Regions from separate parts of the Homo sapiens genome. Here regions 1, 2 and 4 are each linked to region 3. Evidence: fine-mapped expression QTL. A gene starts in region 3. Each other region holds a variant in brackets. All regions are shown on one strand. Distances are from middle to middle. Region 1 overlaps PRUNE1 (prune exopolyphosphatase 1). Region 2 holds the start of FALEC (focally amplified lncRNA regulator of ECM1). Region 3 holds the start of ADAMTSL4-AS2 (ADAMTSL4 antisense RNA 2). Region 4 has its middle 5.6 kb from the start of HORMAD1.

Region 1 (2,682 bases), 470 kb after region 3:
AAAAAACCTCTAGCAGTTATGTATGTATGTTTGTTTGTTTGTTTGTTTTGAGCCTGAGTCTTATTCTGTTGCCCAGGATGGAGTGGAATGGCATGATCTCAGCTCACTGCAACCTCTGCCTCCCGGGTTCAAGTAATTCTCCTGCCTCAGCCTCCCTAGTAGCTGGGATTACTGGTGCGTGCCGGCATGCCCAGCTAATTTTTTGTTTTGTTTTGTTTTGTTTTTGTTTTTTGAGACGGAGTTTCGCTCTTGTCCCCCAGGCTGGAGTGCAATGGCGCAATCTCAGCTCACTGCAACTTCCGCCTCCCTGGTTCAAGCGATTCTCCTGCCTCAGCCTCCTGAGTAGCTGGGATTACAGGCATATGCCCCCATGCCCGGCTAATTTTTGTATTTTTACCAGAGACAGGGTTTCACCATGTTGGCTAGGCTGGTCTCGAACTCCTGACCTCAAGTGATCACCTGCCTCGGCCTCCCAAAGTGCTAGGATTATAGGCGTAAGCGACCGTGCCCGGCCCAAGGATGTTTTATTGATGATGATGAGAAAGTCCTTCATCCCTCTCCGTTTCTTCCCTTTCAGGCCTTTCTGCAGAGGTCTAACCTCCTTGCAGATCTCCATGCTTTCTGCCAGGCTCACAGCTATGATGTCCTGGTTGCCATGACTATCTTTTTCAACACTCACAATGAGCCAGTGCGGCAGTTGGCTATTTTCTGTCCCCATGTGGCACTCCAAACAACGGTGAGTCTGTGTCCCTTCTCCAACCTAAGAGCCTTACAGAGTCTGCCTGTATGTACCTCTGTGCTCTACAGCTGTCCTATAAGGACCTCTCTTAGGTTCTTATATTAATGTACTTACATGAGGTCCCTTGACCTGTTTCTGGACCTGTTTCCTCCCCTTTCTGCTTTTTCCCATTCTCTCTCTATATGAATATCCTTTTTTTTTTTTTAATGAACATCCTTAATCATAGCATTGTTGAGAAAGGGGGAATTCCAAAGAGAACTAGAGATTCAATTCCTACTTTGAAAGAACGAAATCTAGTTAGAAGGAAATGTTATAAATCCGGAGTTAAAATTCCCTTCTTGAGCTAGGGACAGTGGCACGTGCCTGTAGTCCCAGCAACTCGGGAGGCTGATGCAGAAGGATTGCTTAAGCTGGAAAGTTTTTTTTTTTTTTTTTTTTTTGAGACAGTCTTGTGCTGTTGCCCAGGCTGGGGTGCAGTGGCACAATCTCGGCTCACTGCAAGCTCTGCCTCCTGGGTTAACGCCATTGTCCTGCCTCAGCCTCCCGAGTAGCTGGGACTACAGGCGCCCGCCACCACGCCCGGCTAATTTTTTGTATTTTTAGTAGAGACGGGGTTTCACCGTGTTAGCCAGGATAGTCTCGATCTCCTGACCTCGTGATCCGCCCGCCTTGGCCTCCCAAAGTGCTGGGATTACAGGCGTGAGCCACCG[C/T]GCCCAGCCGAGCTGGAAAGTTTGAGTCCAGCCTGGGCAAAGATAGCAAGACCTCATCTCTGTTGGGGAAAAAAAAAAACAAAAACTCTATTCTTGGTTTAATCATTAATTCCTCACCCCTGGAATTATGCTGTTGCCTTGAAAATTAGAAATACGAGAGACCTTTTCTGCTACTTACTATGCAGGGATTAATTATTCTGTATAGTGCAAACTCTGTAAAGAAGTGATCTAGATCCAGATTTGGCTATCTTTCCTACTTCCTCCCCCTTCTGTTCCTCTGCTGGTTACTGATTAGCCTAGGGAAGAATTTAAAAGTGGGCTTAAGGCTGGGTGCGGTGGCTCACACCTGTAATCCCAGCACTTTGGGAAGCTGAGGCGGGCAGATCACGAGAGCAAGAGATCAAGACCATCCTGGCCAACATGGTGAAACCCCATCTCTTTTAAAAATACGGAAATTAGCTGGGCGTGGTGGTGCGTGCCTATAGTCCCAGCTACTCAGGAGGCTGAGGCAGGAGAATCTCTTGAACCTCGGCAAGCAGAGGTTGCAGTGAGCCGAGATTGCGCCACTGTACTCCATCCTGCCAACAGAGCAAGACTCCGTCTCCAAAAAAAAAAAAAAAAAAGGTGGGCTTAAGGCAGTTCAGGGATTCTGAGGGTTGCCTAGGCTCTGTGAGGACTGCTAAAGACAGAATACAGCCAGATAATCCTTTGCTCTCATAGAAGGTATGTCTGTCCTTTCCCGCCCCCCTTTGCCTTTGCCTTCTCCCCAGGAAGCAAATCTGATTTCATTCAGTGTAAGGTAGTTCGTCATTATGAAAAGAACTGCAGTTTTGTCTGTTTGTTTGTTTTTTAAGATGGAGTCTCACTCTGTCGCCCAGGCTTGAGTACAGTGGTGTGATCTTGGCTCACTGCAACCGCCACCTCCCAGGTTCAGTCAGTTCTCCCACCTCAGCCTGTAGCTGGGACTACAGGCGCCTGCCACCATGCCTGACTAATTTTTGTATTTTTAGTAGAGATGGGGTTTCACCATGTTAGCCAGGCAGGTCTCGAACTCCTGACCTCAAGTGATCCACCTGCCTTGGCCTTCCGAAGTGCTGGAATTACAAGCCTGAGCCACTGCACCTGGCCAAGAACTGCAGTTTTTAAAGTCAGGTAGATGTGCTTTTCTGTTCTAGGTTTGCCTCTTACTCACTCTTTGAGCTAAGGCAAGTCAGTTGACTTCTGCATCTGGAA
Region 2 (2,682 bases), 41 kb before region 3:
CGAGAATCACTTGAACCTGGGAGGTGGAGGTTGCAGTGAGCCAGTATCGCACCACTGCACTCAGCCTGGCCGACACAGCGAGACTGTGCCTCAAAAATAAAATAAAATAAAATAATGTCTAGTCGGAGAGCCGGGGAGGTGGCGCGCGCCTGTAATCCCAGCCACCCAAAGAGCTATGGTCTCGGCACTGCACTTCAACCTGCGAGACCCAGTCTCAAAAAGAAAAAAAAAAGTTTAGTCGGCAGCCAGCAAGGCGGGACGCTGGGAGGCCAGTTCAAAGAGTGTCGTCCCAAGTGCCGGAGGGACGGAGCTGTAGCCCCCAACCTGAGCTGGACCCGAGGGTGGCGGTGACTAGGACTCTCAAGCCCTACAAAGCTGCTCCCAGGAACCCGAGGCCTCAAGGCTGGATCTGAAAGAATCGGAATGAAGACTCGGAATGAAGAGTCCCAGGGGAACAAGTCCTGTGTGACTCCGCCGCCAGGACGACCTTCCAGAAAGCAGACTTCTCCGCTCCAGTTCTAGCGGAGACGGAGAGAGTGAACCAAGAACCATCATCCTGCGCCAGCCAGGGGCAAGCGGAGCCTCAGTTGCTCCCAAACCCACGCCCGCCTCTCCTTCCTCTCCTCCTCCACAGGCTTTCATTTATTTACTTAAGTATTTTTAGCCCAGTAGCAGTTTCCAGTCCAGCGGCTCCTCAGATCTTTCGCCGGCTGTCCGCCCCACCTGTCCGTCAGCACGCGAGCCAATGAGCGGGCGAGGGCAGCGCTGTGCCCCGCCCCTGAGCCGGCAGCCCAGTCTCGGGAGCCCGGGGCCGCCTGGGCCTCCTGCCCGCCGCGCTCGAGTCTGGAGCTCGAGAGTGACACTGCGCATGTGCGGGCGTCCTGCGCATCTCCTACGGCCTCCAGGACAGAGGAACCGGGGGAGGCAGGGGGAAAAGGCCGGCCCAGCAATTCCCCTACCCCCCGGTCCCACGTGTACCCTCCTGGCCTGGGTCGCCCCAGCCCACGGGGAGCGGGCGGAGTCCTGGCCCACGAAGCCTTGTCACCTGGCGGGCGAATCCGCAAGCGGAGACTTGTCTTTAAAGGGCTTTGGGCCGGGCGCGGTGGCTCATGCCTGGAATCCCAGCACTTTGGGAGGCCGAGGCGGTGGATCACGAGGTCAGGAGTTCAAGACCAGCCTGGCCAAGAAGGTGAAACCCCGTCTGTACTAAAAATACAAAAAAAAAAAAAAATTAGCAGGGCGTGGTGGCGGGCGCCTATAATCCCAGCTACTCGGGAGGCTGAGGCAGAGAATTGCTTGAACCCGGGAGGCGGAGGCTGCAGTAAGATCGCGCCACCGCACTCCAGCCTGGGCGAGAGAGGAGACTCTGTCTCAAAAAAAAAAA[G/T]GGAGCGGGGGGGCTTTGGTCTGTGCAGGAGCTTCCCGGAGATGCTTTAGAGCTGCGTTTGCAAAGTGCAGCGCCAAATGCTGCAGAGAGGTGGGAGTCAGAGGAGAGGAGGACTGCGGTCCCAAACCCTAGCAGTTTAGTCTGTCGGGGAGGAGAGGAAGGGAACCCGGAGAGCACTTGTAAGCTACAGTGCTGAATATGAGGAGGTACTGAATTGAGCATCAAATGCTGAGAGTTAAAGAATTCTCCCTAGGGACCAGCCAGCTATTATCTGGAAGCAGTGAGTTTGGATAGAGCCTGGAAGCACGGGTAGCATTGCTGTTAGCAATAAAAGGTGAACGTGTTAACATTCACTGCAATTCGTTGTATACACTATTAAAATATAACTTGCTCAATTCAGGGGCGGTGAGTAAAGTAAAGGAGTCAGAGCTCCTAATTATTGGAGAGGCCAGGGAAAGCTTCACAGAATTCAAGCTTGAGTAGGGTTTTGTTGAAAGGGAAGGATATACAAAGCATTGAATGTATGCAAAGTTCAGCTAAAGTAAACAGTCCTTTTTGTGTTAGGCAGAGTGCTAAAAGTACTCTGGCTATAACGAAGACTACAACACCACCTTCAGGGACTTTAGCGTCTGTGGAGACTTGAACATCTAATGTTAGAAATATTCTCAGAATTCTGAGACAGCCACCTAGCCTGGCCTTCAGGGAGATCTTCCAGGAAGAGGAAATAACACAGAAAGTGTGGTATATTTAAATATACCTAGCCAGGCGCGGTGGCTCACACCTGTAATCCCAGCACTTTGGGAGGTCGAGGCCAGTGGATCAACCGAGGTCAGGAGTTCGAGACCAGCCTGACCAACATGGTGAAAGCCGTCCCTACTAAAAATACAAAATTAGCCAGGCATGATGGCGCATGCCTCTAATCCCAGCTACTTGGGAGGCTGAGGCAGAAGAATTGCTTGAACCCAGGAGGCAGAGGTTGTAGTGAGCCAAGATTGTGCCATTGCACTCCAGCCTGGGTGACAGAGCCAGACTCCGTCTCAAAAAAAAAAAAAAAAAAAAGGTTGAGGGCATGGTGAGGGAGGGGACTTTTTTTAAAAGCTCTTCAGGAGATAGGGTTGAGAGAACCTGTTTGCTGGTGTCTAGGGTGACTACCAAGTTTGAGGCTGTGGTAACTAAGGTAAGTGTTACAGACTGAATGTTTGTGTACCCCCAAATGCATTTGTTGAAATCCTAGCCCCCAGTGTGATGGTATTAGGAGGTGGGGCCTTTGGGAGGTAATTAGGTCATGAGGGTGGAGC
Region 3 (2,682 bases):
GCCACTGCCTCACCTCACTCTCTCCAGAGCCCCGGCTGTGATGGGATCCTTGGCTCTGGCAGGCGTCCTGATGGCTGTGGAGTCTGTGGGGGTGATGATTCTACCTGTCGCCTTGTTTCGGGGAACCTCACTGACCGAGGGGGCCCCCTGGGCTATCAGAAGATCTTGTGGATTCCAGCGGGAGCCTTGCGGCTCCAGATTGCCCAGCTCCGGCCTAGCTCCAACTACCTGGGTGAGCACCCAGCTGCCTCCCCTTCCACTTCCGTCTCTGTTCGGCCCTCCATACCCCTACTCAGAGCAGTGAGCAAGCCAAACAGGGGGAAGTCCAGGGCCTAGCCCCTCCCCTCGTGGAAGGAGTGAGGAAGCTGAGAGGGCTTGGGGGGATCTTAGGTTCTGGTGGGAGCTTCTATAGGCTAAGGACACGGTGTGGGAGGAGGAAGGTATTATCACCCTGGAATTTCCCGATCTCTCACCTCTGACCCGCAGCACTTCGTGGCCCTGGGGGCCGGTCCATCATCAATGGGAACTGGGCTGTGGATCCCCCTGGGTCCTACAGGGCCGGCGGGACCGTCTTTCGATATAACCGTCCTCCCAGGGAGGAGGGCAAAGGGGAGAGTCTGTCGGCTGAAGGCCCCACCACCCAGCCTGTGGATGTCTATGTGAGCCTGGGGCCAGGGGCAGCTGAATGCTGGGGAGGGAGGCTGTTCCCTCTGGGCAGAGCTGTGGTTGTCAAGATGGGAGAGAGAGCTGGTGGCATCCTCTTCTGGCCACCCCCACATATTCATTATCTTCTCTTCTCCCCAGATGATCTTTCAGGAGGAAAACCCAGGCGTTTTTTATCAGTATGTCATCTCTTCACCTCCTCCAATCCTTGAGAACCCCACCCCAGAGCCCCCTGTCCCCCAGCTTCAGCCGGGTAAGACTCTGACCCCTGCACTTGGAAGGAGGAGGGAGAGGCTGCAGGGCTGGCTCGGGGCAGTGGGGTGGCATCTGATTCGCCTGCTCCCCTGCACAGAGATTCTGAGGGTGGAGCCCCCACTTGCTCCGGCACCCCGCCCAGCCCGGACCCCAGGCACCCTCCAGCGTCAGGTGCGGATCCCCCAGATGCCCGCCCCGCCCCATCCCAGGACACCCCTGGGGTCTCCAGCTGCGTACTGGAAACGAGTGGGACACTCTGCATGCTCAGCGTCCTGCGGGAAAGGTGAGACATCACAGTGCGTTCCCCGCATCTCGGTCCAAACCCCCCAACTGACACTCCCGCATCCTGGATTGTGGGGCCACGCCCGACCCTGCGTCTGGGACACCACTGAGCTTGGGCTCTAGCCTCCTGCCTCCCTGGCTGCCTTCTCACCCACTCAGGTGTCTGGCGCCCCATTTTCCTCTGCATCTCCCGTGAGTCGGGAGAGGAACTGGATGAACGCAGCTGTGCCGCGGGTGCCAGGCCCCCAGCCTCCCCTGAACCCTGCCACGGCACCCCATGCCCCCCATAGTGAGTATGGGGGAGCCCACGGGGAGGGTTAGGGTACTGGAAACACAGCAGTTGCCCCCAGAATCTTACCTGAACTCTGCACTCAACGCAACATCTCCTGGCTGCAGAGAGACAACATTAGATTAGAAAGGCAGACATTCGGTAGGCAGCAAGAAAGCCATGGCAGGCTGAGCCCCCCAGGAACCCAGACTCCAAACGCCAAACGTGCCCACTCTCCTCTGAGGCCCCCACGTCCAGTGTGTCTTCCATCTCTGCTGCCACGGCAGCCCCACACATCTCATCTATGTCTCCGCCTCTTCCCTGCCCTGCTGGTGCCTGCAGCTGGGAGGCTGGCGAGTGGACATCCTGCAGCCGCTCCTGTGGCCCCGGCACCCAGCACCGCCAGCTGCAGTGCCGGCAGGAATTTGGGGGGGGTGGCTCCTCGGTGCCCCCGGAGCGCTGTGGACATCTCCCCCGGCCCAACATCACCCAGTCTTGCCAGCTGCGCCTCTGTGGCCATTGGGAAGTTGGCTCTCCTTGGAGCCAGGTGAGTTTGCCCAGGCAAGGAGGTGCTGGGGAGGGGAATGGGCACAGGTGAACAACAGCAGTGGTTTTTCAACTTCTTTTTCATCAGCAGAAACTATTTACAAACAGGGTTTCATATGGACCCCCAATATAGAAGTCAGATAAGGGACTGAACCAGGGACTGGGGGCCCAGGGCCCTAGGGCTCAGCCTCCTCCTCAGCCCACGAAGCCATGTGACTGCTGGGCTGGGGATCGAAGGCAGAGCCTGGTTCTGAAGCCTAGAGCTGGAAGCTGGCTGAGAAGGTCTGGGAAGCCCAGCTCCCTGGATTCCCCTCGCCCCCTCAGTGCTCCGTGCGGTGCGGCCGGGGCCAGAGAAGCCGGCAGGTTCGCTGTGTTGGGAACAATGGTGATGAAGTGAGCGAGCAGGAGTGTGCGTCAGGCCCCCCGCAGCCCCCCAGCAGAGAGGCCTGTGACATGGGGCCCTGTACTACTGCCTGGTTCCACAGCGACTGGAGCTCCAAGGTGAGCCCGGAACCCCCAGCCATATCCTGCATCCTGGGTAACCACGCCCAGGACACCTCAGCCTTTCCAGCATAGCTCAATAAACTTGTATTGATCAAGCGCCTGCTATATGCCTGACCCTGGGAACTCAGAGATAAGTGAGAACAACTTCCATGAGGGGCCCGGCT
Region 4 (2,682 bases), 170 kb after region 3:
GAAAACAGCCACTAGATATGAAAAGATTTGCCCAAAGTCATTCAACTAGGAGAGAAATGAAGACTAGAACCTTGTTATTAGGGTTAAAAATAGTGAAAATCTTGGTCTAATAATTATTTTGAATTATAATTAAGTCACTGTTTTGTGTGTTTTTTTTTGTTGTTGTTGTTGTTGTTGTTTTTTGAGACGGAGTCTCACTCTTTTGCCCAAGCTGGAGTGCAGTGGCATAATCTTGGCTCACTGCAACCTCCACCTCCTGGGTTCAAGGGATTCTCCTGCCTCAGCCTCCCCAGTAGCTGGGATCACAGGCACGCACCACCACATCCAACTAATTTTTGTATTTTTAGTAGAGATGGGGTTTCACCATGTTGGCCAGACTGGTCTTGAACTCCTGACCTCAGGTGATTTGCCCACCTTGGACTCCCAAAATGCTGGGATTACAGGCATGAGCCACTGTGCCCAGCCACTTTTTTTTCTTTAGAGGCAAGGTCTCTTTCAGTCTCCCAGGCTGGAGTGCAGTGATGCAATCATACCTCACTGCAGCCTCAAACTCCTGGCTCAAGCAATCCTCCCTCCTCAGCCTCTGTAACAACTAGGACCGCAGGTGTGTGCCACAACTCTCGGCTACTTTTTAATTTTTTTGTAGAGTCAGGGTCTTGCTATGTTGTGTAGACTGATCTTGAACTACTGGCCTCAAGTAATACTCCTGCCTTAGCCTCCCAAAGTGTTTCAGGCATGAACTACTATGCCAGGCCTATTTTCATTTTTTTTCATTTTTTTTGAGACAGAGTCTTGCTCTGTCACCCAGACTGGAATGCAGTGGCGTGATCTCGACTCACTGCAACCTCCCCTTCCTGGGTTCAAGCAATTCTCCTGCCTCAGCCTCTGAAGTAACTGGGGTTACAGGCGTCCACCACCACGCCAGGCTAATTTTTGTATTTTTAGTAAAGGTGGCATTTTGCCATGTTGGCCAGGCTAGCCTCGAACTCCTGACCTCAGGTGATCGGCTTGCCTTGGCCTCCCAAAGTGCTGGGATTACAGGCATGAGCCACCACGCCCGGCCCCCTTTATTACATGTTCTGATTTATAGTCTTTCTGGTAACTTAGAGTATGCATACTTGAAGCATCATCAAGATTCTCATCTAGAAGAGAAGAGTCAAAAAATAATAATTTGATTCAAAGAAATAGTAAGTCTTATGCCTGTAATCCCAGTACTTTGGGAGACCAAAGTGGGAGGATCACTTGAGGCCAAGAGTTGGAGACCAGCCTGGGCAACATAATGAGACTCCCATCTCTACACACACACACACACACACACACACACACACACACACACACACACACAAATAAGCCAGAAATGGTGGCTTGCACCTCTAGTCCCAGCTACTGGAGGGGTGGGGAAGGTGTGTGAGGTGAGAAAATAGCTTAAGTTCAGGAGTTCAAGGCTGCAGTGAGCAGTGATGGCATCACTGCACTCCAGCCTGAGTGACAGAGTGAGACCCTGTCT[C/CA]AAAAAAAAAAAAAAAAAGATAAGAAAGGAAAAAAGAAAAGAGAAAGGAAATACTAAGTATCTGTCACATTTATGTTATATGTTTTAATGGCATTGTCTCATGGATGCCTAGTTCTGGAATATTTAAATCTTCTTGTTTCTTTTTTTAATATAATTTTTCAAATTTTTTGGCTAATCTTCTCTGTATCATTCAAATTTGAGTATATGTGCTGCCAAAGCAAGCACCGTTTCTTTACTTTTATTATACAGTTTAAAATTCTGTCAACTTTTACTCTGTGATGGCTCCCAGATTTGCTTTATTTTTTATTTTTTTGCTGTTTTCAGAAATGATGTATTTAGTTTAGGGCTTTATCACCACACATATAGACTACTAGAATATCTTTTAGATTGTCTCTTTTTTTTTCTTGAGACAGAGTTTCGTTCTTGTTGCCCAGGCTGGAGTGCAATGGCATGATCTCGGCTCACTGCAACCTCCACCTCCTGAGTTCAAGCAATTCTCCTGTCTCAGCCTCTCAAGTAGCTGGGATTACAGGCACCCACCACCATGCCCAGCTAATTTTTGTATTTTTAGTAGAGGCGGGGTTTCACTGTGTTGGCCAGGCTGGTCTCCAACTCCTGACCTCAAGTGATCTGCCTGCCTCGGCCTCCCAAAGTGCTGGGATTACAGGCGTAAGCCACCACGCCCGGCCTAGGTTGTCTCATTTTAAAATTTTATTTATTTTATTATTTGCCAATTTATTTATTTTGAAACAAGGTCACCCAGGCTGGAGTGCAATGGCGCTATCATGGCTCACTGCAGCCTCAATCTCCTGGGCTCAAGTGATCCTCCCACCTCAGCCTTTCCCCTGGTAGCTGGGACTATAGGCACATACCACCACACCTGGCTAACTTTTTTATTTTTTGTAGAGATGGAGATCTTTTTATGTGCTCATAACAAGAGGCAGGAGGATCACTTGCGCCCAGGAGTTTGAGACCAGCCTCTTGAACTTCTGGCTCAAGCGATCCTCCCACCTCAGCCTCCCACAGTGCTGGGATTACAGGTGTGAGCCACTGCACCTGGCTTTTAAAAAAATTTTCTTCAAGTCATCTTGCATACTACTGTCTAGAAATTGTTCCAGAATAAATTCTAAATGTTTTTGTTTTAAATTTATATTTTTAGATAATTTTTTATCTCT

What was found. PIP is the estimated chance that this variant, and not a neighbour inherited with it, causes the effect.
Region 1: its variant is fine-mapped to the expression of ADAMTSL4-AS2 in whole blood (INTERVAL, PIP above 0.99).
Region 2: its variant is fine-mapped to the expression of ADAMTSL4-AS2 in pancreas (GTEx, PIP 0.95).
Region 4: its variant is fine-mapped to the expression of ADAMTSL4-AS2 in whole blood (INTERVAL, PIP above 0.99).

The regions. Positions count from the first base shown.
Region 1 is chr1:151,028,209-151,030,890 of GRCh38, forward strand. It overlaps PRUNE1 (prune exopolyphosphatase 1), which reads left to right. Exons shown (of 8, transcript NM_021222.3): 7 at 578-736. Among named protein-coding and RNA genes, the nearest start is that of BNIPL, 7.0 kb to the right of the region's middle. The variant C/T (reference allele first, on the strand shown) is at 1,450.
Region 2 is chr1:150,514,874-150,517,555 of GRCh38, forward strand. It overlaps FALEC (focally amplified lncRNA regulator of ECM1), which reads left to right and starts at 879. Exons shown (of 6, transcript NR_186305.1): 1 at 879-1,189. RefSeq lists enhancers at 324-393, 464-613 and a silencer at 704-1,073. The variant G/T (reference allele first, on the strand shown) is at 1,385.
Region 3 is chr1:150,556,135-150,558,816 of GRCh38, forward strand. ADAMTSL4-AS2 (ADAMTSL4 antisense RNA 2) reads right to left here and starts at 1,590. Exons shown (of 6, transcript NR_187269.1): 1 at 1,559-1,590; 2 at 474-550; 3 at 14-83. ADAMTSL4 (ADAMTS like 4) reads left to right here. Exons shown (of 19, transcript NM_019032.6): 9 at 28-232; 10 at 487-659; 11 at 805-916; 12 at 1,016-1,201; 13 at 1,360-1,489; 14 at 1,811-2,015; 15 at 2,339-2,515.
Region 4 is chr1:150,725,152-150,727,833 of GRCh38, forward strand. No RefSeq gene overlaps it. Among named protein-coding and RNA genes, the nearest start is that of HORMAD1, 5.6 kb to the left of the region's middle. The variant C/CA (reference allele first, on the strand shown) is at 1,508.